Linked DNA regions of Homo sapiens: regions 2, 3, 4, 5 and 6 are each reported to be linked to region 1. Evidence: microRNA targets listed by miRTarBase, many of them from high-throughput screens and not tested one by one. Region 1 holds a microRNA gene; each other region holds the end of a gene's coding sequence. Distances are from middle to middle.
Evidence for each region. The annotated mature microRNA hsa-miR-3918 reads ACAGGGCCGCAGAUGGAGACU and lies in region 1 at 2,636-2,656, shown strand. An mRNA with a match to its seed (bases 2 to 7 or 8) in the 3' UTR can be bound and repressed. Matches are read on the target gene's strand: a 7mer-m8 pairs with bases 2 to 8, a 7mer-A1 pairs with bases 2 to 7 and ends in A, and an 8mer does both.

Region 1 (4,085 bases):
CCACGGGCTACAGCGCGGAGCTGTCTAGTGAGGGCATCCGGGATGACCGCAATGAGGAGAAGCGCATCACTGAGGCAGAGAAGAACGAGCGTGTGCAGCGGCAGCTGCTGGTGAGGCCCAAGGGGCTCTGTCTCCAGGGAGCCTGCCTCGCTTTTGGAGCAGACAGGCTTGGGGAGGGCAGTGATGTGAGCCAGCCCCACCCAGCACCCCTCTTGCCCTTCCTGTTTTCCTAGGGGACGGGCCGGGCCATATGGGGAGGAAGGGACTAGACCAATGCTGCTTAATGTTACAGACGCTGAGCAGCGAGCTGTCCCAGGCCCGAGATGAGAATAAGAGGACCCACAATGACATCATCCACAACGAGAACATGAGGCAAGGCCGGGACAAGTACAAGACGCTGCGGCAGATCCGGCAGGGCAACACCAAGCAGCGCATCGACGAGTTCGAGGCCCTGTAACAGCCAGGCCAGGACCAAGGGCAGAGGGGTGCTCATAGCGGGCGCTGCCAGCCCCGCCACGCTTGTGTCTTTAGTGCTCCAAGTCTAGGAACTCCCTCAGATCCCAGTTCCTTTAGAAAGCAGTTACCCAACAGAAACATTCTGGGCTGGGAACCAGGGAGGCGCCCTGGTTTGTTTTCCCCAGTTGTAATAGTGCCAAGCAGGCCTGATTCTCGCGATTATTCTCGAATCACCTCCTGTGTTGTGCTGGGAGCAGGACTGATTGAATTACGGAAAATGCCTGTAAAGTCTGAGTAAGAAACTTCATGCTGGCCTGTGTGATACAAGAGTCAGCATCATTAAAGGAAACGTGGCAGGACTTCCATCTGTGCCATACTTGTTCTGTATTCGAAATGAGCTCAAATTGATTTTTTAATTTCTATGAAGGATCCATCTTTGTATATTTACATGCTTAGAGGGGTGAAAATTATTTTGGAAATTGAGTCTGAAGCACTCTCGCACACACAGTGATTCCCTCCTCCCGTCACTCCACGCAGCTGGCAGAGAGCACAGTGATCACCAGCGTGAGTGGTGGAGGAGGACACTTGGATTTTTTTTTTTGTTTTTTTTTTTTTTGCTTAACAGTTTTAGAATACATTGTACTTATACACCTTATTAATGATCAGCTATATACTATTTATATACAAGTGATAATACAGATTTGTAACATTAGTTTTAAAAAGGGAAAGTTTTGTTCTGTATATTTTGTTACCTTTTACAGAATAAAAGAATTACATATGAAAAACCCTCTAAACCATGGCACTTGATGTGATGTGGCAGGAGGGCAGTGGTGGAGCTGGACCTGCCTGCTGCAGTCACGTGTAAACAGGATTATTATTAGTGTTTTATGCATGTAATGGACTATGCACACTTTTAATTTTGTCAGATTCACACATGCCACTATGAGCTTTCAGACTCCAGCTGTGAAGAGACTCTGTTTGCTTGTGTTTGTTTGTTTGCAGTCTCTCTCTGCCATGGCCTTGGCAGGCTGCTGGAAGGCAGCTTGTGGAGGCCGTTGGTTCCGCCCACTCATTCCTTCTCGTGCACTGCTTTCTCCTTCACAGCTAAGATGCCATGTGCAGGTGGATTCCATGCCGCAGACATGAAATAAAAGCTTTGCAAAGGCACGAAGCAGCACGGGTGTGTGCTTGTGTGTGGGGTGGGAGGGCTACCGCCGACTCGTCTGGGCTCTATGCTGTCCTCTGGCCAGGTTTCGTGAGGGGCCGTGGTGTCCCTGGGGGTACACTGGTAAGTTGGAGCTGACCAACCCAAGACATGGTGCTCCATGGGTCACCTAACCTCCTCGAGATGGTTTCCACAGGAGAGAAAGACTGCTCCAACACTCATCAGGCTCCTCTAAAATGCTCCTCATAGCCGGGCACAGTGGCTCACACCTGTAATCCCAGCACTTTGGGAGGCCGAGGTGGTCGGATCACGAGGTCAGGAGATCGAGACCATCCTGGCCAACATGGTGAAACCCCATCTTTACTAAAAATACGAAAATTAGCCTGGTGTGGTGGTGCATACCTATAATCCCAGCTACTTGGGAGGCTGGGGCAGGAGAATTGCTAGAACCCGGGAGGCGGAGCTTGCAGCAAGCCAAGATCGTGCCACTGCACTCCAGCCTGGTGACGGGGAGACTCCGTCTCAAAAAATAAAGTGCTTCTCACAGCGAAGCTGTGACTCCCCCCCCCGCCTTGAGACAGGGTCTTACTTTGGCCCAGGCTGGAGCACAGTTGCATGATCGGGGCTTACTGCAGCCTCAACCTCCTGGGCTCAATCCTCCCGGTTCAGCCTCCTGAGTAACTGGGACTACAGGTGTGTACCACCACACCTGGATAATTTTTTGGTTTTTTTGTAGACAGGGTATCTATGTTGCCTGGGCTGATCTCACACTTCTGAGCTCAAGCCATCCACTGCAGCCTCCCAAAGTTGCTGGGATTACAGGGGGGAGTTACCATGCCCACCAGCCGGCCTTTTACCTCATTTGATAAGCACTGGAGGACATGGGTAACAACGTTTATTAAAATCTGGCCATTTTCTACATCTCAAAGAGGAGATAACCCACCAGAGGCTTAGGTAACATAATTGTGTTTAACGTAAATATACACAGATACCAATAGGCGGTTAAGCCATGGGACAGGGCCGCAGATGGAGACTGCTCAAGGTCAAAGGGGTCTCCAGCTGGGACCCTGCACCTGGTTCGTAGCCCCTCTGCAGACGCACAGTGCCTCACGCCTGCTGCAACCTGGAACCTTGAGGCCTTCATGTCAGTGCAGGACAAGAGTCATGTCTGTCCATAGATTGGGGCTGGAAAGGACTTTCTGCCACTGGAGCTTCGATAGTGAGCATGCATCCCCGCCAACAGCTGTGTCTCCCTCTGTAAGAGAGGAAGACAATTTAGCCATGGTCGGGGAGGGCACCACTTCATCCCCTCTCATCCCTTTAAAAATGATGACCAGCCAGAAGTTTTTCACCTCAAGTCCACATTAAAAGGCCAACCACTGATGACAGACGCCGCCACCACCACTCCCACCCCAACAAAGCTGGTGTTGAGACTGGGATTCACGCAGGCATCCTCTGCTCTGCGAGGCTCTAACAGCCTGGAGTTCTGTAGTTTGAAAGTGAGGCGAGGACTCTGGTTTGGTGGGCTGGGTCTTCACCAAGGGAGTGGATAGTTGCACACCAGCATGGCTAGCTGGGTGGGGCCGTCTCAGACTGGGGGCTGGGCTTGCCCATGGGAAGGGATTCTTAGAGGAAGACAGTATGCTTTGGACAAAATATCTTTGAAAAGCAATGGAGCAGTGAAGCTTATTTCTCTTCAGTCACTGGTTCTCAGTTGGAGGTCCTTGGAGATGTGTGCAGGTGTTTTTGGTTGTCATCATGTCAGGGACACTGCTGGCAGCCAGAAGCAGTGCCAGGCACAGAACCTCACAGCAGAGGGCTGTCCACCTACCATGCCGGCGGTGCCCTGCCGAGCGGCTCTGGACAGCACTGCTGTTCTGACCACTTTTGATGAAGTACTTTCTGAATTGCCATTTGTTTAAGAAGATATTTTCATTTAAGAAAATAATCCTTTTATGATTGACGCCAGAAACAAAAGCAAATACTGTACCTAGCCCGTTTGGAGGCCTATAATTTTTGTTTCTTTAGCAGATCTAAATCTGATTTAAATTGTCAAAATACTTGGCTGTATTATGGCTCAGCTGTAGAGTAAAAACTAGACTTAGGCATTTCCAATTAAGGCAGGCTAGGCAATTTCAAAACCAGTTAAGTCACTGCCCTGGTGGAAGCATTTTCTTTGCACGGTACCCATTAGGATAATCACAAAGTATAAACGTTTGGGCTCAATGTCTCAGACTTACTTGAACCAAGTCTGGTTCCTCCAAGCAAGCGGTCGTTCATTCCAAAGAGGGCCTGATCCCAGACAGTTAACTCCAAGCTTGACTGCCTCAGCTGAGCTGGGGTTACGCCACTGAAGACAAATGAGTGTTTCCACTGGGGGCAAGCCTGCTTCCTCAGGACTGGCGACTTCAGTCTCAGTTTTTGTTGGTCTGGCAGAGTGAGACAGCTGAAGAGGGAACACAAA
Region 2 (4,085 bases), not on the chromosome of region 1:
CGGGTGGCCCCCTCCCAGCTGCCTGGCCACAGGGCACAATCCCACTACACAGCTCAGCCTGTTCTTCGGCTCCAGGCCAGAGGTGGGAGTCGGGGAAGGCGGGAAGGACGGGAGAGTCGCGCCGGGAAGTTCAGGGCCTCCTGGTCCTTGTGACACACGCAGCCATGGCCCTTCAATCTCCTTGTGATAGGATGCAAGGCTGGGCCAATGTCTCTCCTCCCGTGACCTCTGCTCCCAATCCACACTTGCCGGGGCTTCTCAGCGGGCCCTCTTCCCATGGGTCTTTGCAAGAAGCAACAACTGACACAGACTGGGCCCCAGCCCGTCTAAAAGCCTCCACTCGGAGTAGAAAAAAAAGGTGCTTGGTCTCATCTCTGACCACTGTGTGGCCTCAGGAAAGTCACTTGATGTCTCTGGGCCTCTGCCCTCAAGTGTGAACAGGAGCTCGCTTTCCATTTCTGTGAATTACACTGCACCAACTGCTTGGGGGTCTGATAAGGAGCAAATAACATCCATGAAGAAATCTGCCATTCCACAAAAAAACTGACACCACCAGAAGGTTGACAATGCCTCTCAAACTCATCCCCGTCCCTGCCGCCCCATAGGATGACTTCCCCAGCCTTTGTAGGGGTCCCTGCATTTGGGCTCTTCCTTCCTAAAACCCAAACCTTGTAACTCCTTGGCCCAAAATCCTTCAAAGACACCTGTCTCAGGATTAGTCCATGTTCCTCGGTGTGACATTCAAGGCTCTGAGGGCTCTTTTGGTATTGGTGACAGATCCCAATTCAAACAGCCCTGGTCTCTTTATTAACTTTACTTTCAGGTAAGTCCTCAACAGCTCAGCCACACCGGGGAGAAAAGATAAGAGATGGAGAAACAGAGAGACATTATTAAAGAGTTGTAGTCCTGGATCCTGCCATACCTGAAGCCAAAAATCCCTGGATTTTTTATTTGTATGAGAGCCAAGAAACATCGTGAACCACCTTCTGGTTTCTCATAATAAACTTGGCTCATAAGGCTTCTGTTACTTGCAACCATGTCCTTCCTGTAAATTCCCTTCTTGGCTGAACTTAGCCAGGGTGAGCTTGCACCTAAAGAGCCCCACTGTGTGCAAACACTCTTCCTGACCCAGCCCCACAGCGGGCCGACCTCTTCTCCCTCCCCTCCCCACTTGCAGCCACGCTGAGCAGCTCGCCCCAGCTCCTCTCCCCAATGCCATAGAGTCTTTGCGTGTCCTGCTACCTAGACCTAGAGCACCCTTCCCATTCTGCTTACTGCTGCCTTCTCATCCTTCAGACTCCACTTGGTGACAGCCTCCAAGAGGCTTTCTCTGGCCCTCAGGCCACGTCTGAGGTCCCCTAGGCTTTCCCTATCGTGGCAGCCCTTTTGCAGATCTGTCCCTCCTACCGCAGACTGGGGGGAACTGGAGGCGAGTCTCATCTGTTGAGGTCTTCCCCAGTGTCCAGAGCAGGACCCAGCCCCAGGGGAGTGGAGTGCACGCCTGATTAGGGAGACATCAGGGTGCATCATCTTGGGCTGTGGTTCATGATCAGACAGCATTGGGTCAGGACCACCCCTCGCTCAGCATGGCCCATGGGAGGAGTTTCTGGATGGAGCAACTAGGTATGTGTGAGTGTTTACATGGGTGTGTGGGGGTGGGCGTGTGTGGAGGGGTGTGGGGGGTGTGAGTGTGTGGGTATATGGGGGGTGTGTGGGTGTGTAGGCGGTGGGAGTGAGTGTGTGGAGGGGTGTGGGGAGGGTGTGAGTGTGTGGGTATGTGGGGGGAGTGTGGGTGTTTGGGTGTATTTGTGGGTGTGTGGGGGTGGGTGTGAGTGTGTGGAGGGGTGTGGGTGTAGGGGGTGTGGGTGAGTCCTGGGGTGATGGAGGTAGAAGGCTGGTCTCCACCCTCCCTACACTGTATTTCCAGAAACACATCAGCCAGACAGAAGCTTGTTGCTGCTTTATTGAAACTTCCTCCCTGTCGCACACAAAGCAATTACACAAGGGGGTATTGCCAGGGAGCTCTTGCAGAGCCTTCTCCCTCTGTACCCCCCGACAGTCCCCAGAGACCCTGCCTCCGTGGCCTCCACCTCTGGGTCAGCTCCCTGGAGGACCCCGACACACAGGGAAGCAGGCACAGGAGGGCTGTTGGGGCCAAACCTCCCCAGCTGCCACAACCGCCATGACCCCAGTGGCAGGGTCAGTGCCCACAAGGGGGTTGCCTGCTTTGACTGAACTAACCTGTGGGTTTAGTCCAACGAACAGATGTGCCTGATTTCAGGGCTGAATTTTTGCTTGACCACAAGCCTCGGGCAGAACAGATTCGCCTATGACTGAATCGACTGAATGGATGGCCAGCGACAGCCTGGCCTGGGAATGGACTGGCAGCTCATCACTAAAATGACTCCTTTCATGGAATCCACTGTTATGCAGCCACACTGACCACAGAGCAACTGAATAGGTGAGCATTGGATTGTTGATGACAACTCTTCAGCAGAACAATTGTGTGTTTGAAGGGACTGTTTTATGATGAAATAACTGTTATTTCCTGGAGCTAATTGTTGAATGACAGTTTGTCAACTGTTTAAATGAATTTCATTTGAATTAACAATTATACAGCCACTCAGAGGTCCTACATTCGCCAGAGTTGGCATCCAGTTGATGGGTTCATTTGAATTAAATGGTTTGGAGGCTAACGTGATTTTTTAAATTGAATTTCATCACTATTCTGTGTATTCTATTTATCACTATTCTAAATGACTCATGGTTGGCTAATTGATTATCATGTAAGCAAGCTATTTGAAGAAATTGATTACATATATTTATATATAGGGGGTAACTAATTAATGATTACTTGATTAAATTGCTATGTGAACTGACAACTATTTATAAATCAATGCAATAGACTGTTGTTTGACCAAATTATTTTACTGAACTGACAAGTGGGTTTTTGATTTGTCAGTTGCTTGGCTGAACTGATCAAGTCGATAGTTGCTTGACAAACTCACCAACTTTAGAATGGCCAATCGTCTAAACAAGTGTCAGAGCTGATTGAAATAAACCAAGCATTGTTGGGCTGAATTATGGAGAGACCCGAGGAGTGACTCAGCCTAAAGCGTTGACCCAGTTGTGAGCAGCTCACAGGCCCTGCAGGAGGAGCAGGCCAGCGAGGGAGACACAAGCAGATTGTCCTGCCAGGGAGGGGCGGGAGGGCCCACCCAGGCCACAGGGGCCACCAAAGCAAAAAAGCAGATTATGAGGCAGCTCCACCCCTCCCAGCACTGGGGCTGGGGCCTGGCGAGGGTCACACCTCTGAGTATGGGGGTGGTGCTGGGCCCCCCTCTGGGGTCTTCGATGGCAAAGACAGGGCTTCCTCGTAGGACGGCAGGACCACCTGGGAGAGACAGAGAGATGAGGGCTGAGTATGGTCAAGAATGACCTGCAATTCCAACCTGGGGTCATGGGACCCAAACCCCCACCTCTGGCAAAATGATGATGATAATGACTGGCAGGTCTTGGATATTTGCTATGTGCTAGACATTGCCTGCATGAGATAGGTGCAGTTCCCAGCCCTGTAGTGGACATATTTGCCTTTGCCTATTCAGCATCAAGTCCCCCTTATTTTGAAAACAGTGCACCATTTTCCTTGGGAAAACATTCTCAGTCCATATACCTTCAGAAGAACTGGTCCCATCCCTCAGATCCAGCGAGGTGGCTGGACTTGGCCACTCAAAGTAGAATTCCATCCCCCTGGCTATAGTCCTTGGTTTGGGGATAGGCACGTGGCCCAAGTTGGTCCAATCAGACATACTCCTGGGACCTTCTTTTTCTGTTGGGATTTCTGAGAGGGTGGGATATCTGCCTAGGGGTTTTGGCAGCCTTTTTGCCACCACAAGGGATGGGCTTCCGGAAAATGAAGCCAACATCAAGGAAAGTAGAGTCAAGAGTTGGAGAGGACGAGATCATATCCTGATGTCAGGACTCAGCCAGGCCCAAGCCAGACCTACATTTGGCTGCTAAGTTCTGTGAGCTAGTAAATTCCTGAAGTCAGATTGAGTTGGGTTTCTGCCACTTGCAACCAAAAG
Region 3 (4,085 bases), not on the chromosome of region 1:
ACAAGAAAAAGCGCCAGATACGTAATTGTATGCAGGATGCCATCCTGTCTACCTTAACACAACGTCACGCCCACGAATGGTTCTGAAACGCACAGGAAAAGTTCTGGGAAGGGCGCTGCTGTGGGGTGGGGCTGGGAGATGGGGTGGCTGCGGGAGACCCGCTTCGTTCTTTCCGGTTAGGCATCTTAAACGCTGCTGATGGGAACGGTCTCACGAGGTTCCAGCAGCCTGAACACTACAACGAAGGCGGCGCGGGCGCTGCACCCGCCAGGCCCTCCCTACCTGCTGCGGACGTCCTTGCTGCGGATGGGCGCCAGGAGGCTGAAGGAGGATTTGGCCGAGCGAAGGGAACAGTCGTCGCAGGCCAGGGGGCTCCGCGGCCGGCCGGGGCCCAGGCTGCTGTGGGCCCGCACCAGGAGCGGCTGCGCGCGGAGCTTGTAGTCTGCAAGATCCGAGTCGACCTTGTTTGCTGTCCTCAGGGAGTCGGAGGCGATGTCCAGGCTCAGGGCAGGCGGTGGGCGCGGGGGCAGCAGGCTGGGCAGCCTGGGCGAGCTCCCCGCCACGGCGGCGTCTCTGTGCGGGAGGTTCGGGGAGCTGCTGGCCACCCCAGAGAGAGGGTTACCCCCCGAGGACGGGCTCCCTCTCTCACTGCTCAGGACCCCGCGGGACTTGGGGATTTCCTGCAAGGAGGTGCTCAGGCAGGGCGGGGAGCAGCTGTGGGCGGGGGCCCCGGGGCCCTCGCTCTGCACTGAGCCCCTGGAGGGACTGGTCCCATTCCGGGCTTCCAGGTCCTCCTGGCTGCCTCGAAAACGCCTCCTCCTCCAGCCCTTGTCGTCCAGGGACAGGGCTCGCTCCAGTCGAGGCCTGGCGGGGGGCCGCGGGGCGATGGGTGCTGCTCGGGCTGGCGGGTCCTCGCCGCTGGGCGTGGCCGGAGTGCTGCAGGCAAGCGCGGGGCTCTCGGAGCCCGGAGCATCGGGTGGGGACCCCGCGCGCTGGGCCGGCGGAGCGCCGGGAAGCTGTCCTTGGAGCGTCCTCCCTTCCGGCGGCTGCGGGGCCGGCTCGGAGGGCCGCAGATTCTCCGCCTTGGACGGCATGGACGGTCTCTCCCGGGGCAGGCCTCGGCGCGAGGCCGCAGGCAGCGCGAGGGGTCACGGGTGCCGGGTCCGGGGTCGCCGGCGCAGCGAGGAGCAGAAACGCCGCTGCGGCTCCCGCTTGGGCCGGGGATGGTCGCGGAGGGGCGGGGGCGGCTGCCGCATGGCCCGGGCCCCGAGTCCCGCCAGCCCCTCGGGGCTCCCAGACGCCGTTCCCAGGGCGGTCCGCAGGCAAGGCCTGGGGGAACAGGCGGCTGGGCGCCTGTCGCGGGGGAGGTTCGACCCCGACGGGGACGCCGCTCGGGGAGAGGGGTGGGAAGCGGGCACCCCTGGCTGGGCTCGCAGACTCCGAAGTCGACCCGGTACTCGCGGAGGCCCGGCCGCCCAGAAGCGGAGTCAGCCCGGCCGGGACCCAGCAACCGCCGCCGCGGGGCCGCGCCCGGTCCCCGCCCCGCGCCCCGGCCCCGCCCACAGCGGCCCCTGGCGGCCGGAGGACTGCGCCGCACCGGACCCGGACGGGTCTCCCACGCCCCTCCCAACCCGGCAGCCCCGCAGTCCGGCAGGTCCCAGCGAGGCAGGTGCAGGTCCCCGGAGAGGACCTGGGTGCGGTCCAGGACAGCGCCGAGGCCTGCGGACACCTGCACTCACTCGCTTCCAGCAAACCAAAGGGAACCACAGGTGAAGGTGCTTGAAGGAGCGCAAAATATTTTATTCAACAATTTGCAATGTAACAATTCTCATTTAGGAAAAATAGCCGCTCCCGCCTGGAGGAAGCTTCTTGAATCAAAAGTCGTGGCAGTCGACCCCAGAACAGCGGGCAGAGCCGACCGGAAGAGGTCCCAGGATTCACACGAGCTGACCGAGGGACAGAGAGGGCTGCCCCGTCACAGGGACTGGCCTTTCTCCAAGTGACAAGGACAAATGGATCCAGCGGGACACGCCTGTGGAACATTTTGGAAAACATCCTGGGTGGTCTGGGCTAAATGATCAAGTGAAACAGAAAGCCAGGAAGGATCTGTGCTAATTCCACATTCTACAATTTCTACACTTAAATTTAAAACACCAAACAGTTTGTATTCCTCCAGCAGAACCTACAGAAATTATCTACTGATTTTTATTAGTATTTAAATCTTTTCTTCAGTCTCTTTAGACTTGACAAGAATACGAAGAGTTTCAGAACAGTCAGAGAAGCCTTAAAGCTTTGCATCAGTGAGAGGAGGCCCGTCTCTGAGTTGAACAGGGTTGAGTCCACCAGGAGCTACTCAAAGTCTCAGTGTGGCAAAACTCGGGGCAGAAATACTAAGTTCCAGAGCTGCTGTCAAGAAACTGTGTTAAGATACTCTCCCCAAGTGCTACCAACCTCTGAACCAACGTCCCCCAGGGGAGAAAGTGGGTCATGTGGATTGTACCACGAAAAGTGCTCACGGAAAGTGCAGCCTTTTAGAGAAGTGCATCCAGCTTCCTTAACAGTGAGTCTAACCGTGCTCCTACACACGAAATGAAGCCCAAATCAAACATCACACGGTCAGTTTTCAACCTGGATGACCACCCTGAGCCATCATGTCAGACAGCCGGCTCTCTGGGGCTCCTTCCCAGTGACTGGGCCACACGGTGGGCAGTCCCCAGCGCTTTGGGTACACAAAATCACCCATGGTCCTCATCAGGCCACAGAAAGTAAAGTGAGGCTGGAAGCGTCTTTGCAACAGGAAAGAAATTCACTGCAGTAACTAAGGCCTCTCTCAAAAACCGTGAACTAATGCCGAAGGAACCCCACGGCTCCTCGGAGGCGCTGATTGAGAACACAGCGCCCTCCACTCATTCAGCCAGGTTCAAACACGGCGAGGGCCCAGATGGTGCAGAGCAGGGGTTGGGGTCTGCCTCAGTCACCCTCTCTTTGCTCCCAGCACCTTAAAGGAAGCGCGGGACTCACTGGGCAGTGACTCACAGCTGGGCTTGGAGAGGCCCTGGTTACTACCGACCATGTGGCTCTCCTGTGGCAGAGACAGCTCCGGCTTCAATGAATGAACATTCTTAAATGACCAGGAATACTATATCCTTAAATCATCCTAAATGACTAAGAAAGTCACATCATTCTTTTCGGCAAACAATTCTGAGTCAAAGATTCAGTCTTTCCATCCAGAATCTGAAAGGATGGTGGAATTAATTTTCAAAATAATTCATTACGATGGGCGGTGAGGAGGGAGGCACAGTGTGCGACCAGCTCTGAGTCACTGCTGTGTCTCCCTGGGGGCGGGACGGAGATCGCGGAGGTCGGTCGGGTTCTTCGGGGAGAACAGCAGCGTCAGGGCTCCAAGTGCAAGTTCACAGCAGGGCAAGCCTAGTTCAGCACCAGGTGCTTCCTCTGGCCAATCCTCCCTAGCCTTGAGCTCCCGGAGGTGGCGCAGGCCTGGAATGAAATCAACAGCATGACCTCTGCATGCCTGCCCCCAGGGTGAGCAGTGCTCGGCTGCAGCGTGGCAGGGGCTGGTCCACATAATGAACCACACGGGCCATTGGCGCTGACAAGCTGAAGGCTTCGTTTTTGTTTCCAAAAGCCTCTGGAAACCGACAAGTCAGTGCCAAGTCCTGGGCTCCCTTGAAAGCACTGTATCCTTAACCATCAATGTTTACTGTGAGGGTGGCCAGGAGGTGCCGTGGTTTCATCAGGGCCATGAGACCTGGAGCTGCTCTGCAGAGCCAGCCTGGCTGTCCAGAGTCCAGGGACAAGTGGTGGCCAGGCCTGGCCTACTGCATGGGACGCGGGGACCTCAGTTGCAGACAGCTGGCCAATGCAGGCATCCACTCTTGCTCCCTCGCAAAGCCTCATGGAGGGGAAAGCCAAGGAATTTTTGTAAAGGCACTAACCACATGGTAAAGGGAGCAGGACAATACCAAAATCGACTAGTCTGGATGCTGAAAAGCAGGTGACAGCCAGGGGCCAGCTTGGGGGCAGTGGTCCTGGGAGCCTCGGCCTCGTTTGTAGAGGACCAGGGC
Region 4 (4,085 bases), not on the chromosome of region 1:
TGGTGGCGGGCGCCTGTAGTCCCAGCTACTAGGGAGGCTGAGGCAAGAGAATGGCGTGAACCCAGGAGGCGGAGCTTGCAGTGAGCCGAGATTGCACCACTGCACTCCAGCCTGGGCTACAGAGCGAGACTCCGTCTCGGAAAAAAAAAAAAAAAAAGGTCACTGGAAGACTGGGTGTGGTGGCTTATGCCTGTAATCCCAGCATTTTGGGAGGCTAAGGCAGGAGGATCACTTGAGGCCAGGAGTTTGAGACCAGCCTAACAGCAAGACCCTGCCTCTTAAAAAAAATAATAAAAAAATAAGCTGGGTGTAGTGGCTCATGCTTGTAGTTCCAGCTATTCAGGAGGCTGAGGTGAGAGGATCATTTGAGCCCAGGAGTTGGAGGCTGCAGTGATCGTGCCACTGCACTCCAGCCTTGGTGACAGAGCAAGAGACCCTGTCTCAAAGAAAAAGACAGATAAGTCCTTGGGAGTCTCAGACGGAGGACATACATAGAGAATGAACAAGAAGCAATAACCAAAGAGATAATGGCTGAAAATTTTCCATAAAGACTTCCACAGACTTCAACTCCCCAGATTGAAGGAACAAACTGAAGTCAGAGTAGGGTAAATAAAAATAAATATATATCTGGATATATCCCATTGAAACCACAGAATATAAAAAGCAAATCTTATAAATAACTGGAGAGAAAAGTCAGATTCACGGTGTTCTGTCAAAGTGTTCATGTAGACTAAGGGTGGGGAAACTTTCTGTAAAGGGCTGGAGAATAATTATTTTCAGCTTTGAGGCTTTGGTCTCTGTTGCAGCTGCTCACGCAACTCTGCTGTTGAAGTTTGTAGTGCAAAGTCAAGTCAACAAATGAGTGTGGCTATATCAGAAATTTTAATAAATAACAGTAAAACTTCATTTATTGACATGGAAATTTGAATTTTATATAATTTTATGTCATAAAATCTTATTATTCTTTGACTTTTCTCCAACCATTACAAAATATAAAAACCACTCTGTGGACTATACCTTGCTGATTCCTAACGCAGACTTCTAATGATGGGAATCACCACTTCTGAAATTGCTTTCTGTTAAGACTGTAGAATGAAGTCGGGCGAGGTGGCTCAGGGGTTGGAGACCAGCCTGGCCAACATAGTGAAACCCTGTCTCTACTAAAAATACAAAGATTAGCTGGGCATGGTGGCATGTGCCTGTAGTCGCAGCTACTGAGAAGGCTGAGGCATGAGAATCGCTTAAACCGGGAGGCAGAGGATGCAGTGAGCCGAGATCGGGCCACTGCACTCCAGCCTGGGAGACAGTGAGACTCGTCTCAAAAAAAAAACAAAAAAAAAAAAAACAAGGAGTAAAAAGTTGTTAGCTGCGATTCTGTGTTAATTGCCTGTTTGTTCATATTCAATGGTTTTTGTCATTTTTCCTTTTTCCTATGTTTGTTCTGATTATATTTATTGAAATGTAATTTTATGTCTAATTAATCTGATAAACTGTGGACTTGTATTCTGTATTTTTTTTTTTTTTGGAGACAGAGTCTCGCTCTGTCGCTCAGGCTGGAGTGTAGTGGCGTGATCTCGGCTCACTGCAACCTCTGCCTCCCGGGTTCAAGCGATTCTCCTGCCTCAGCCTCCTGAGTAGCTGGGATTACAGGTGCGCACCACCATGCCCGGTAATTTTTTTGTATTTTTAATAGAAATGGGATTTCACCCTGTTGGCCAGGCTGGTCTCGAACTCCTGACCTCATGATTCACCTGCCTCGGCCTCCCAAAGTGCTGGGATTGCAGGCATGAGCCACCACGCCCAGCCTCTGTATGTTTTTTATTTCATTTTTCTAGTTTTTAAAATTTTTATGTTATTTATTTATTTATTTTTTAAATAGGTCTCAGTCTGTCTTCCAGGCTGGAGTGCAGTGGTGCAATCATGACTCCACTGCAGCCTCCCAGGCTCCGTGATCCTCCCACTCCAGCCTCGCAAGTGGGTGGGACTACAGGCGCCCCACCATGCCTGGCTAAGTTTTTGTATTTTTTGTAGAGATGGGGTTTTCCCATGTTTCCCAGGTTGGTCTCGAACTCCTGGGCTCAAGTGATCCTCCCACCGTGGCCTCTCAAAGTGCTGGGATTACAGGCATGAGGCACGGCACCCGGCTAGTTCTTCTTATGAAAGTACTGGACCGTGATGGATTAGAAATGAAAACTGGTCCTTTACCATAGCTAGTTGGGGGACCACTGGTTTAGGAGTTCCTGCATCCAATGGGTGCCCCCTAAGTGCCTTGAATGGGGGATGAGGGTGGGAAGTCTGCGGGGCCTGGAAAGGTGGGAGCGAGAGCAAGAGTCTGGGTGTCCATTCCTCTAACTCAGAATCCTGAAGGCCCCGCTGTGTTGGGTGCTGCAGACAGTGGTTTGTGGGACCCGTGTTTTGGTGGGGGAGATAGACAGTACGGGCAGGTGCACCAACAGGGCCTCCCAACCCTTGCTCACTCAGCCAGCCTCTTGGTTGGCCGGTAGGGGAGACCAGCTCAGTGCCGGTTTCCTTCTCCCTCCCCGACAGTGTCATGGGAAGAGCCCTGGGCTACGTTCCTAATTCTACCTACCACCTGCTGGCTGTCCTTGGGTGAGTCAGTCCTTATCTGTAAAATGGGACGGAGGTAGTGAAGATTACAAGATATAACCCGTGTTCAGTGCTTAGCGCAGGGCCTAGTATATTTTCTTTTCTTTTTTTTTTTTTAAATAGAGATGGGTTCTCGCCATGTTGTCCAGGTTGGTCGCGAACTCCTGGGCTCAAGCGATCCTCCCACCTTGGCCTCTCAAAGTGCTAGGATTACAGGCTTGAGCCACCGTGCCCGGCCATCCTGGGGTCTTTCAACAAATTGATAACTGGTAGCTACTATGATCTCAGATTTCAGGTTTCTCAAAGATTCTGTTTCTTGTTTCGTAAGATTCTGAAATGCTGATGTTCCAAAATTCTGAGATGGTTTGTTTCTAACGTTCTGCATTTCTAAGTCTTTGACCACTGAGGGTGTCTGTCAGGCGCGGCTTCCTATGCCCTCTGCCCCCAGGTTCTCCCAACCTCTGGGACTGGGAAGGAGGGCAGTGGGTGGAGGGGGCTGGGCCATTGCCTTGACATGGCCCACATTCAGGGCTGGCTGTGGCAGCCCAGGGCCCCAGAGCCAGGCTGGAACTAGGATACCAGCCTCCAGGTCCCAGGCCTGCGTCATCTCTGCGTGCCCTCGGCCAGGGCCACCAGACAGAGACGGGCTGGTTGAGTCATCCAAGGGCTGGGGGTGGGGCAGGCTGTTCCGGCCGGCTCCTGGCTGGCAAGGCAGGAGTCCTACGCCCAGCTCTGCCCCTAACATGCCCCGTGCCCTTGGGCAAGCCTCAGCATCAGGGCTGCCACGCGTTCGGTGGTGCTCGAAGCCCTTCAGCGTCAGGGTCAGTCCTTGGGAGGGGGGCTGTGGTCAGGCTGGTGGGCTGGGCTAGCAGTGGCAGGACAGGAGGAGAGCAATTGCCTCTGGTGGAATTAATTACTCTTTTATTAGCACAAAATAACAGCAACCTAGCAGCCGCACGGCCCGAGAATAAGTTAAGGCACAGAGCAGGCGACGGGCGGCTTTCCCAGGGCCAGGCCTGCATGCCCCGAACTTCCTGAGCAAACTCCCTAGGGGCTGGGGTTTCGAGGGTCCTGGAGGGCCTCTTCCCTTGAGATGAGGGGAACGGAACAGGGCAAGAGGGGCGCCCCCATGGGCGCAAGGGGTCCACGCTGCGCCGCGATCACTTCTCGAAGTAGGGCAGGTAGAAGAACTGGAAGCCCCGGTGGCCCTTGACCGCGCAGTAGATGAAGATCACGTGATAGACTGCGGGGCGGGGCCTGTCAGCGCAGAAGCCCCGCCCCTCCCCGCAACACCGCCCCCAGTGCCGCCCCACAGCCCCCGCCCCTTCCGCCCCGGTGCCCGCTCGCACCTCCAGGCACCAACAACAGGAAGCCCGGCACGAAGAAGATGGCGCTGGAGACACCTGCGGGAGGGACCAGAGCCCGGTCAGGGCGAGGGGGCGGAGGCTTCGAGGCCTTCCGGGCTGCCGCTGACTGCC
Region 5 (4,085 bases), 130 Mb from region 1:
CACCCGGCTAATTTTTGTATTTTTAGTAGAGACAGGGTTTCACCGTGTTGCCCAGGCTGGTCTCGAACTCCTGACCTCAAGTGATCCACTAGGCTTGGCCTCCCAAAGTGTTGGGATTACAGGCGTCAGCCACCACACCCGGCCAATTTTCATTTTCTTTAATATTCTGTCAGGTATTGATTTCAAGATGGGAGCCGAGCACCGTGGCTGTAATCTCAGCACTTTGGGAGGCCAAGGTGGGTGGATCGCTTGAGAACGGGAGTTCGAGAGCAGCCTGGGCAACACAGTGAGACCTCATCTCTACAAAAAATATTTTAAAAATTAGCTGGGCGTGATGGTGCATGCCTGCGGTCCCAGCTACTCAGGAAACTGAGGTGGGAGGATTGCTTGAGCCCAGAAGATGGAGGCTACAGTGAGACAGGATCATGCCACTACACTCCAGCCTGGGTGACAAAGTGAGACCCTGTCTCAAAAAATAAAAGGGGGGTGGGCAGGGACCAGCAGATCTAATACTGGATCTTAAGCAATTCACTAAAATTCACATTAAGCCTCCTGGGAACTGAGCATGTCCCTAGACTTCCACCAAAGGATTTTCCCCTCATAATTCTACTGTAATATAACAAGATAAATGCAGGGAGAAAGGTTTTATAAGGAATCACAAAAAAAAAGGAATTTGAGAGTAGCTGTAAATACGACTTTTGAACATTTTTAGGGCAGGGCGTGGTGGCTCATGCCTGTAATCCCAGTACTTTGGGAGGCTGAGGCGGGAGGATCGCTTGAGCCCAGGAGCTCAAGGCCAGCCTGAGCAACATAGAGAGACCCTGTCTCTGAAAAAAAAAAAGAGAGAGAAAGCTTTTAGGCACCCAGACATACCCTATTAAAGCCCTCTTACTCTACCAGGAGTCCCACCTCAACTTATTTGGAAAGAAATCAGCCCACTCCATTGCCATCAAATGCAGAGTCCCAGCTTCTCAGTCAGGAGTGAAACTAAGTTGAATCAGAGTATACACTACAACCACAGGATCATGACTGAGAATTATTACTCAGTTTGCTACTCTTGGTGCTAGATAAAATAAATCCACTCATATTGGCAGGTACACTTCATTCTCTAGTCTATAACATGTGCATTTCTCATGAATTTCCTGTAATAAGCATTCACCATATGCACACTGGGAAAAGCTGGGGAAAAGGTGAGGAACAAAGGATAAAATATTAAGAGGCAAATTGAGTCATCTCTCTGAGCTCAGTTTTAATGGGGGGATAACAATATTATATAGTTGTGGATTAAATGAGTTACTTCATATAAAAAAACAAGTGCTGTTTAAATAGAAACAAAATTGTGGATGTAAAAAATTATTTTCCTACACTCAATGGGCTTAAAGTCAAGATGAAAGTTCCTAGGATATTTTCTTCCACCCATTTATTCTCATTCCTCACTCCACCTGTGACTTACTTAGCTTGCCTGGCCGCAGGTGTGAGCTCTTTGTACAGAACTGTTTTGGAGATGGACCCTGAAATACCAGCCCTTGAACATACTGTTATCTAACGCTGTCCACCGTGGGAATGCAATTTATTTCTTCATTCAAGAAAGTCTTAAATAAAACCCCAGTATGTCTACTGTACTTTCTAAGCTGTTAGCAACTAGAGGGAAAGTTTCTTCTTCACCTTGGTATCTCTTTATCTAGCAGAAGTAGCAATGGGCACTTGGAATTCTGAATAAATGAATATGCCAGCCTGTCAAATTCTGATTCTGGATTTTTCTGTTTCACTTTAAGACATCAATGATCTGAGGAAACAATTCACATGAAACAAACCCACAAGAATTAAAAACAGAAACAAGACGAAAGTTTCTAAATGGAAACGTAGTTTGTGTGCCAAGTATAAGAGGTATGTGGGTTGTGAGAAATGTTATACCAGCTTTACCGTATGGTCCTTTTTATTCTCCCCAGTAAAGTGCACCTGTCAAGATCATAATGTGATTAGGGTATTTTACAGCCAAAGTAGACAAATCCACTCTACCCTATAAAACACAGATCATCACATTGACAGATGAAAAACAAAAACAAACAGCACAAGCAAACAGAAATTATAATCATACTCTATCACTTCATGCAACAGCCTGGAAAATGATCAGAATTTTGGTCTACGTGAGACTGTGTAGACTGTTTATTGTGACACCTAGGTTTTCAGTTCCTTTTAGTGGCTTACACTGATTCTTTGAAGCCTACAGGGCTGCTTTGCCTCAGCCCCACCATATGTAAGTGCACCTGAGGTGCACTGGTTCTCTACTAGGCTTTGCCCACCTTTACAATGGTTCCAACTCAACACTCCACCCAGGAAGCATTCTTTGTAATTGTGGGAGCACTCCACACTCTTTCAGACTTATTATTCTCCCAGTTTACTTTGTAGGAATGATCTGGAAAACTTGGTGAGGACTGACTCACCACTGAAGACTGTGATCATCAATCAGGTTCCCATTGAGAGGACTCTATGACCTGCCATGGCTCCCATTCCACCCTTTATATGCATCTACCACGATGCCTATCTTATACTAGTGGCCTGTAAAACTCTTAATACTAAGATGTGTTATTACCTATTGTCACTGTTTCCTCAAACAATGGCTTAGAAAATGCTGACTTAAGATAACTGATTGATAAACTGGGCTAAGATATTAGACAAAAATTAAATAGAAAAAAAAATCCAGGTTAAACAGTAAGGTGGGTGGCAGGGGGAGGGGGGCTCTAAGATCAGGATATGAAGGTGAAGGGAACACAAGATGAAAGTTGGAACTTGTCCAATGACCTCCCCACCAACAAAAATAAAAAGGCACATAAAAATATTTTTATTTTCTATAAATACATTAGGAAATGTATTTCTTCCCAACCCAGTCCACCCCATTAACTCAATTTTTTCTACATAAAAAAGATGCTAATACCACCCTCACCTGTGACTGCTAAACAGAGAAAGATTGCCTGGACTAGGCATTATCCTCCTAGTTGGAAATAAAGGCCCTTTCTGGGGGCAGGAAGTGGGATTTTCAGGGGACCCTACAGACGTAGGCAGCCAAGAGTCAAACAAAACAAGCATATGCAATAGTCATAATTATGCTAGTATGACAGTATGAATTAGGTGACTCAGCCAGGCACATACAGGAGTTCGGAGTGGGGACAGTGGAAGCCCACAAAACTCCATGTTTGGGCCATCAGTAGACACTTGGTCTGAGAAACACAGTAAAATGTCTGCCCGGGTAGTCACGATCATTCTAGTATGAGGTAGACAGGAAGCAGAGCAGGGCCAGGAAATGGAAGGGGCCACCCAGGCCCTCAGGAGTCCCTGACAAGGGAAGGTCCCTCCATGCTCTCTGAGGGTGGCGGGGCTCCAAAGATCCTGGCCAGGAGCCCTTTGTTGGAGCGGGCCTTGTCCTGGGCAGTTGCCAGGCGAGCCCGTTCACGTCCCCCTGGCCGTGCTGCTTTACGGGCCCTCAGTTCCTGCTCAGTAGGACGCTGGGCAAATGTCCAGGAGCCATCTGGGCGAGCAGGGTCCCCATCGGCCGCAAGAAAGCGTTGTCCCCGTTCCACACTTTGAAGATAGAAGTCGGTCTCACGCTTGGCTTGAGCAACCTCCGCTCTCAAGCGCTGCCTGCGCACCTGGCGCTCAAAGGCGAGGTGCTCGCTGAGGTGGGACCAGGTGAAACGGTGCAAGTACTGTGGGCAGAAAAGAAGAAAAGATCAGGATAGTGCAGATTAGGGAGAAAGATGAGACAAGGGGACAAGGCCAATGAGAGGCCATGGGGATACTTGGGCCAGAGTTGGGGAGAAGGGAGGGTGAGAGGTGTGGCAGAAAGATCTATCTTCTCACCTTGAGGTTCCAAAGATCATAACGGAAGGGGCTGCGCCTGCGGGCACCCATAGGCGTGTTGTGTAGACTGGCCGCCACGCGCTTGGCTATGCGCTTGTCACGGAACTCCACCCATCCCTCGGTGTAGTCCTTGGTGTAGGACCGCTTTTTTCCTCCGGCAGCTGCTGCTGCCTTCTTCTTGCGTCTCACGAACCGGTCTGCGCGCCAAAGACAAAGACCCGTCCAGG
Region 6 (4,085 bases), not on the chromosome of region 1:
TTCCCATACCAGCATCCTTTGTCATCCCAGCTGTCTTCACCTGAGTCCAGTTGGTCCTTACCACCCCCATTCTCCTCTCTCCCACCCAGACTGCCCGGTTCCTGGGCCTGACCTGGAGATCAATCCCACTCTGGAGTCTCTGTGTCTGAGCATGACAGAACACGCCTTGGGTGGTGAGCATTTCCTCTTTCCCTGACCCAGCTCCCACCTACCCAGCGTCTCTGCCTCTGAACTGAGCAACTCAGAGTCATCCTGAGGGGTCCCCAGGGGAGGCCAGACTCCAGGGAGGGCCTGACTGGGATGACAGGCTACCTGAGTGCCTTTTCTTGGGCCTCCCTCCAGCTCCTGATCTTCCTCCCTTCCTCCCTTTCTTACCACAGATGGGACAGACAAAACCTCCACCATCTGACGGGACCCACAGCCCAGCGCACCCATAGGCTCCCTGGGCGGCGGGCGGGGGCCAACCCCCAACGGGCTTCTCCGCGACAGCGAGAGGGTGGGCTGGCTCAGCTATATATTCTAATATTTTTCTACTCTCTTACCCTCTTAACTTTTGTTTAACATTGGCACATGCCTTGCTCACTCCCAGGCCCGTCGAGGGATCTCTGCTGAGGCCCGGGGAGTTGGGGGCAGCCAGGATAAAGGGGGCAGGGACTGGCCAGACTGCCTGCCTCTCTCCTTTCCTTCCTCATCCCCACCTGGTCCCATCCCACCCCTGCCTCCTCCAGACCGCTGACCACCTGCCTCTCCCCAAGGGAGCAGACTCCCCAGAGACAAACTGACCACTACCTTGTGGAGCCTGCTCAGAAACATTTGACATTTGGGGTGACGCGCAGGGCAGAGAACCTGCCCTCCAGAATGTTATTGAGAGGAGCTGGGGAGAAGGAAGGGGAGCAAGGAGAGGAAGCTCTCTCTCCTCTCCCTGCTTCCCCTTCACCATTCCCCACATTCTGCAAGGACAGGAGCCACCTTCCTCTCTCTCACCTCCCCTGGCCCTGTTCACCAGAGGTTCTCTATGATTAATTTCTTAGGCCTATTTAAGATACATATTTATATAGTTCTTAACGGTTTTTCTCTGATCATTTCCTCTCATTTTTAGAATCCCCAGGTCTCTCTCAGCCAAGACAGTGGCAGGGAGAGCCTGAACTTTATGAGGGGAGAGGGCAGAGCCCCCTCCTCCAGACCCTCAAGCTCTAACCCATTTTCCTCCAGCCCTGGCTACCCGGATGAAGAGGTTGGAGGTGGGCAGCCAGGGTAGCCAGTGAGGTCAGGAAGTCTGTTGCCTTAACGTCCCCTTCCCCACGAACACACACCCTTCTCCGCTCCCAGGTCTGGTTGGTGAGACTTGGGAGTCAGGAATAAGGGAAAGGGGATTGTTTGGTTTTTGGGTTTTTCCCTAAGCCCCTCCCTTTTCTTTCAGCCTTTTTCCTTCCCCCATTATGTCATGACCTCACTTAAGTGGAACACTATATCATAACCCAGAGATTCGTCCCAGCCCCAGAGTCCGACAGACTGTCTGGTCCCTATTCCTAATGAGGGGTTGTGTTGGGGCCCAGGTGGAGGGAGGGGATTTGGGGGTTCAGACTGCGGGGAAGCCAGGGTCTCCCTCTTCAACGCCCTCCTCCCCCTCAACCCACCTTCCCAACTGGGACATTCTCAAGCTTTTCACACCGAAAAGGAAAAAAAATGTTATTTTTAGATACATTTTATGAATAACTTTTGTTATGAATATGGCTGGTAACCATTGTGTATGTTATTAAAGATACAAAATGTTGGGAAAAAAACAAAAAAAACAAAAAAAAAAAAAATTTTAAAACCACCACCCTCCCTGCACTATCACCCCATTCCCCAGACCTTCTTGCCCCCGCCCTCCTGGTCTGTGGACTTCCCTCTGCTCTGAGCCCAGGGAGGGGGAAGAAGCCAGGGGGTAGGGTGGCCCTGGGAACCTGGCTCTGGGTCCCCACTTCCTCTCCCAGTGCCGGGCTGGGTGGGGTGTCAGGTTTATTTATGTACCTCTTGCACACTCATCAACCTATGCAAGTCCCCCACCCCGGCCCTCCATGTTTCTGTGCCTTTGCTCATCCCCTCAATCTCCCAGGGCTTCTCCAGTCCCCCTCCCACTAGCTGCAGGAAGTGGGATGGATGGGCCACCTCGTTTGGAATCAGCAGGGTGTCCCTCTCATGGGACCCTCCCCTCTCCCCAGCCTGTCCTGTCTTGTTCACTCTCCATCAGGGTGAGCTGACTGTGCCTGGCACTGGGAGGTGGTGAGGGACACCGTCTCACACACACAGGGAGGCAAGAGCTGCCCCCCACCCCACCTGACAGCAGAGTGTGCAGGACGCAGGCGGCCCCACTCTGATGGGCAGGACCCTGACCCTCTCCCGCTCCAGCCCCCTCCCCAGGCCCTCCTCCATGATTTCACCCTCCCTACCCACTTCTGTCCCCGGCCCCACTGGCAGAATCAGCTTTGAGTAACTGTACAGTTTTTCTCGCTGTTGGAGAAGACTTATTTGTTGGAGTTTCACTTGTTTAATGGTCTGGGCTTATTTTGGAAAAAAAAAAAACAAACAAAAAAAACGAATTCTGACCTTCGTTGTGCTACATTTTGTGGGAAACCATTGGCCCTGCCTCTGGCCTGTGTTTCTAAGCCTCAAGCCAAGATCCTTGAGCACCTGGGGGTTGCGGGAGGTATGTGCTGGGCTGAATGACATCATAGGGGCTGGGAGGGGAAGTAAAGAGAAGTTGACTTTATTAACAGCAAAGGTTTGGGGGTGGGGAACAAACAAGTGAAAGGCTCACAAACAGACCACTAGAAAAGTGCTTTGCTGCTCACAATAATGGTGTCTGAACCAGCCCTGAATGCCCTGGGACTCAGTCACTGTCACTATCAGCTTCACTGGAATCAGAAGCTGCAGCTTCACTGCCATCCTCCTGGGCCGAGTGCTCGCTGCCACTGGGGAAGGGACTGGCGCTGCGGCTGTGGCTCCGGCTCCGCTGGCCACCCCCATTGCTGCCGCTGTCTGAATCATTGTCACTGCCACCTTGGGCCTGTCCTCTGTCCTCATCATCAGAGTCGGCATCGTCCTCAGAATCAGCATCACTGCCAAAGATCTCCTCTTTGTCACGGGCAGCCCGGGCCTCATCCTCGCTGCTCTCGTCCTCACCACTGCCACTCTTGTCACTGGCCTCGTCCCTGTCACCTTCCTCCCGTTCACTCTCGCTGCCCGAGTGCTCATCTTCACTGCCCTCCTTCTCACTGCTGCTGCCCTTCTCCTGCTCCTCATCTGGAAGGGAGTGGAGAGAGATGAAACCCACTTTTCCACCCTCCCAGGGCTCCCAGAGTCTGGCCTGTCCAGATTTACCTGAGCCCCCAGCTTCTTTCTCTTCTGTCTCCATCTCCTCTTCCTCTTCCTCCTCCGGTTCGTGGTTTTCTAGCTGGGCCTTCCGTGCCTCCTGGAAGCAGCAAGATTGGAATGAGGGGAAGGAGGGTGTTCTGCTGGGTTTTTGTCCCCCTCCTCACCTACAACCACCACCCTCCCTGCCATGGGTGCCCTGAGCCAGTGGTGCTTGTTACCTGAGCTTCCAGTTCCTTCTCATTCATGTCCCGATGTTTGACCACAAGCAGGGCGTTGGTGCCTGACTGAACCCCAGCCTTGGCCCGGCGCTTACTAAGGCGGACCCTGCAGGGGGTGAATTTGGGAGAGAGAAGTGGAAGATGCAGTTAAAGACACACCTCCCACTTCCCCGCCCCCCAGTGAGGGGTCTGGTCTGACTTGGTTCCCCATCAATACTTAGAGTAAATGGGAATAAATACAGATTGAATAAGGGCAGCTAAGCTCAAGGTATTGAGGGCAGGGGAAAGGAAGGATGGCTCCCATGGCACCAGTTTGGTTGCCCTACACTGTGTGTGTGTGTTATACGGTGTATTTACATAAATACGGGCATGGGCCATTTAACAGGGACACATTCTGAGATATACATCATGTGAACATCATACAGTACTCTTACACAAACGTACATAGTATAGCCTACTACATACCTAGGCTGTAATGGTGTAGCCTATTGCTCCTAGGCTACAAGGTTG

Region 2: miRTarBase lists LAPTM5 as a target of hsa-miR-3918. Seed matches in the 3' UTR shown: 7mer-A1 at 2,278-2,284.
Region 3: the mRNA of SEC16A is a reported target of hsa-miR-3918. Seed matches in the 3' UTR shown: 7mer-A1 at 3,394-3,400.
Region 4: the mRNA of TMEM134 is a reported target of hsa-miR-3918. Seed matches in the 3' UTR shown: 7mer-m8 at 3,613-3,619, 7mer-A1 at 3,381-3,387, 7mer-m8 at 3,232-3,238, 7mer-m8 at 3,154-3,160, 7mer-A1 at 3,133-3,139, 7mer-m8 at 2,688-2,694 and 1 more.
Region 5: the mRNA of ABT1 is a reported target of hsa-miR-3918. Seed matches in the 3' UTR shown: 7mer-m8 at 3,290-3,296.
Region 6: miRTarBase lists SAMD4B as a target of hsa-miR-3918. Seed matches in the 3' UTR shown: 7mer-m8 at 992-998 and 7mer-m8 at 1,935-1,941.

The regions. Positions count from the first base shown.
Region 1 is chr6:158,763,286-158,767,370 of GRCh38, reverse strand. MIR3918 (microRNA 3918) reads left to right here and starts at 2,618; the gene lies at 2,618-2,710. SYTL3 (synaptotagmin like 3) reads right to left here. Exons shown (of 18, transcript NM_001242394.2): 17 at 3,862-4,067; 18 at 2,500-2,876. The coding sequence ends at 2,767. It overlaps EZR (ezrin), which reads left to right. Exons shown (of 14, transcript NM_001111077.2): 13 at 1-110; 14 at 293-1,623. The coding sequence ends at 457.
Region 2 is chr1:30,730,524-30,734,608 of GRCh38, forward strand. It overlaps LAPTM5 (lysosomal protein transmembrane 5), which reads right to left. Exons shown (of 8, transcript NM_006762.3): 8 at 1,946-3,394. The coding sequence ends at 3,305. Among named protein-coding and RNA genes, the nearest start is that of MIR4420, 6.7 kb to the right of the region's middle. RefSeq lists enhancers at 1-79, 1,749-2,254, 2,255-2,760, 2,801-3,302.
Region 3 is chr9:136,438,326-136,442,410 of GRCh38, forward strand. SEC16A (SEC16 homolog A, endoplasmic reticulum export factor) reads right to left here. Exons shown (of 32, transcript NM_014866.2): 32 at 1,780-3,498. The coding sequence ends at 3,430. It overlaps INPP5E (inositol polyphosphate-5-phosphatase E), which reads right to left and starts at 1,520. Exons shown (of 10, transcript NM_019892.6): 1 at 283-1,520. The coding sequence starts at 1,094. RefSeq lists enhancers at 1-357, 299-408, 358-992, 993-1,626 and silencers at 699-1,188, 1,249-1,428, 1,479-1,678.
Region 4 is chr11:67,460,847-67,464,931 of GRCh38, forward strand. TMEM134 (transmembrane protein 134) reads right to left here. Exons shown (of 7, transcript NM_025124.4): 6 at 3,957-4,010; 7 at 864-3,850. The coding sequence ends at 3,768. It overlaps CABP4 (calcium binding protein 4), which reads left to right. Exons shown (of 6, transcript NM_145200.5): 6 at 1-906. Among named protein-coding and RNA genes, the nearest start is that of TMEM134, 6.4 kb to the right of the region's middle.
Region 5 is chr6:26,597,884-26,601,968 of GRCh38, reverse strand. It overlaps ABT1 (activator of basal transcription 1), which reads right to left. Exons shown (of 3, transcript NM_013375.4): 2 at 3,859-4,055; 3 at 1,230-3,704. The coding sequence ends at 3,324. Among named protein-coding and RNA genes, the nearest start is that of ABT1, 3.0 kb to the right of the region's middle.
Region 6 is chr19:39,383,119-39,387,203 of GRCh38, forward strand. It overlaps SAMD4B (sterile alpha motif domain containing 4B), which reads left to right. Exons shown (of 14, transcript NM_001384574.2): 13 at 90-173; 14 at 381-2,582. The coding sequence ends at 409. It overlaps PAF1 (PAF1 component of Paf1/RNA polymerase II complex), which reads right to left. Exons shown (of 14, transcript NM_019088.4): 12 at 3,576-3,681; 13 at 3,364-3,454; 14 at 2,511-3,285. The coding sequence ends at 2,873. Among named protein-coding and RNA genes, the nearest start is that of PAF1, 5.9 kb to the right of the region's middle.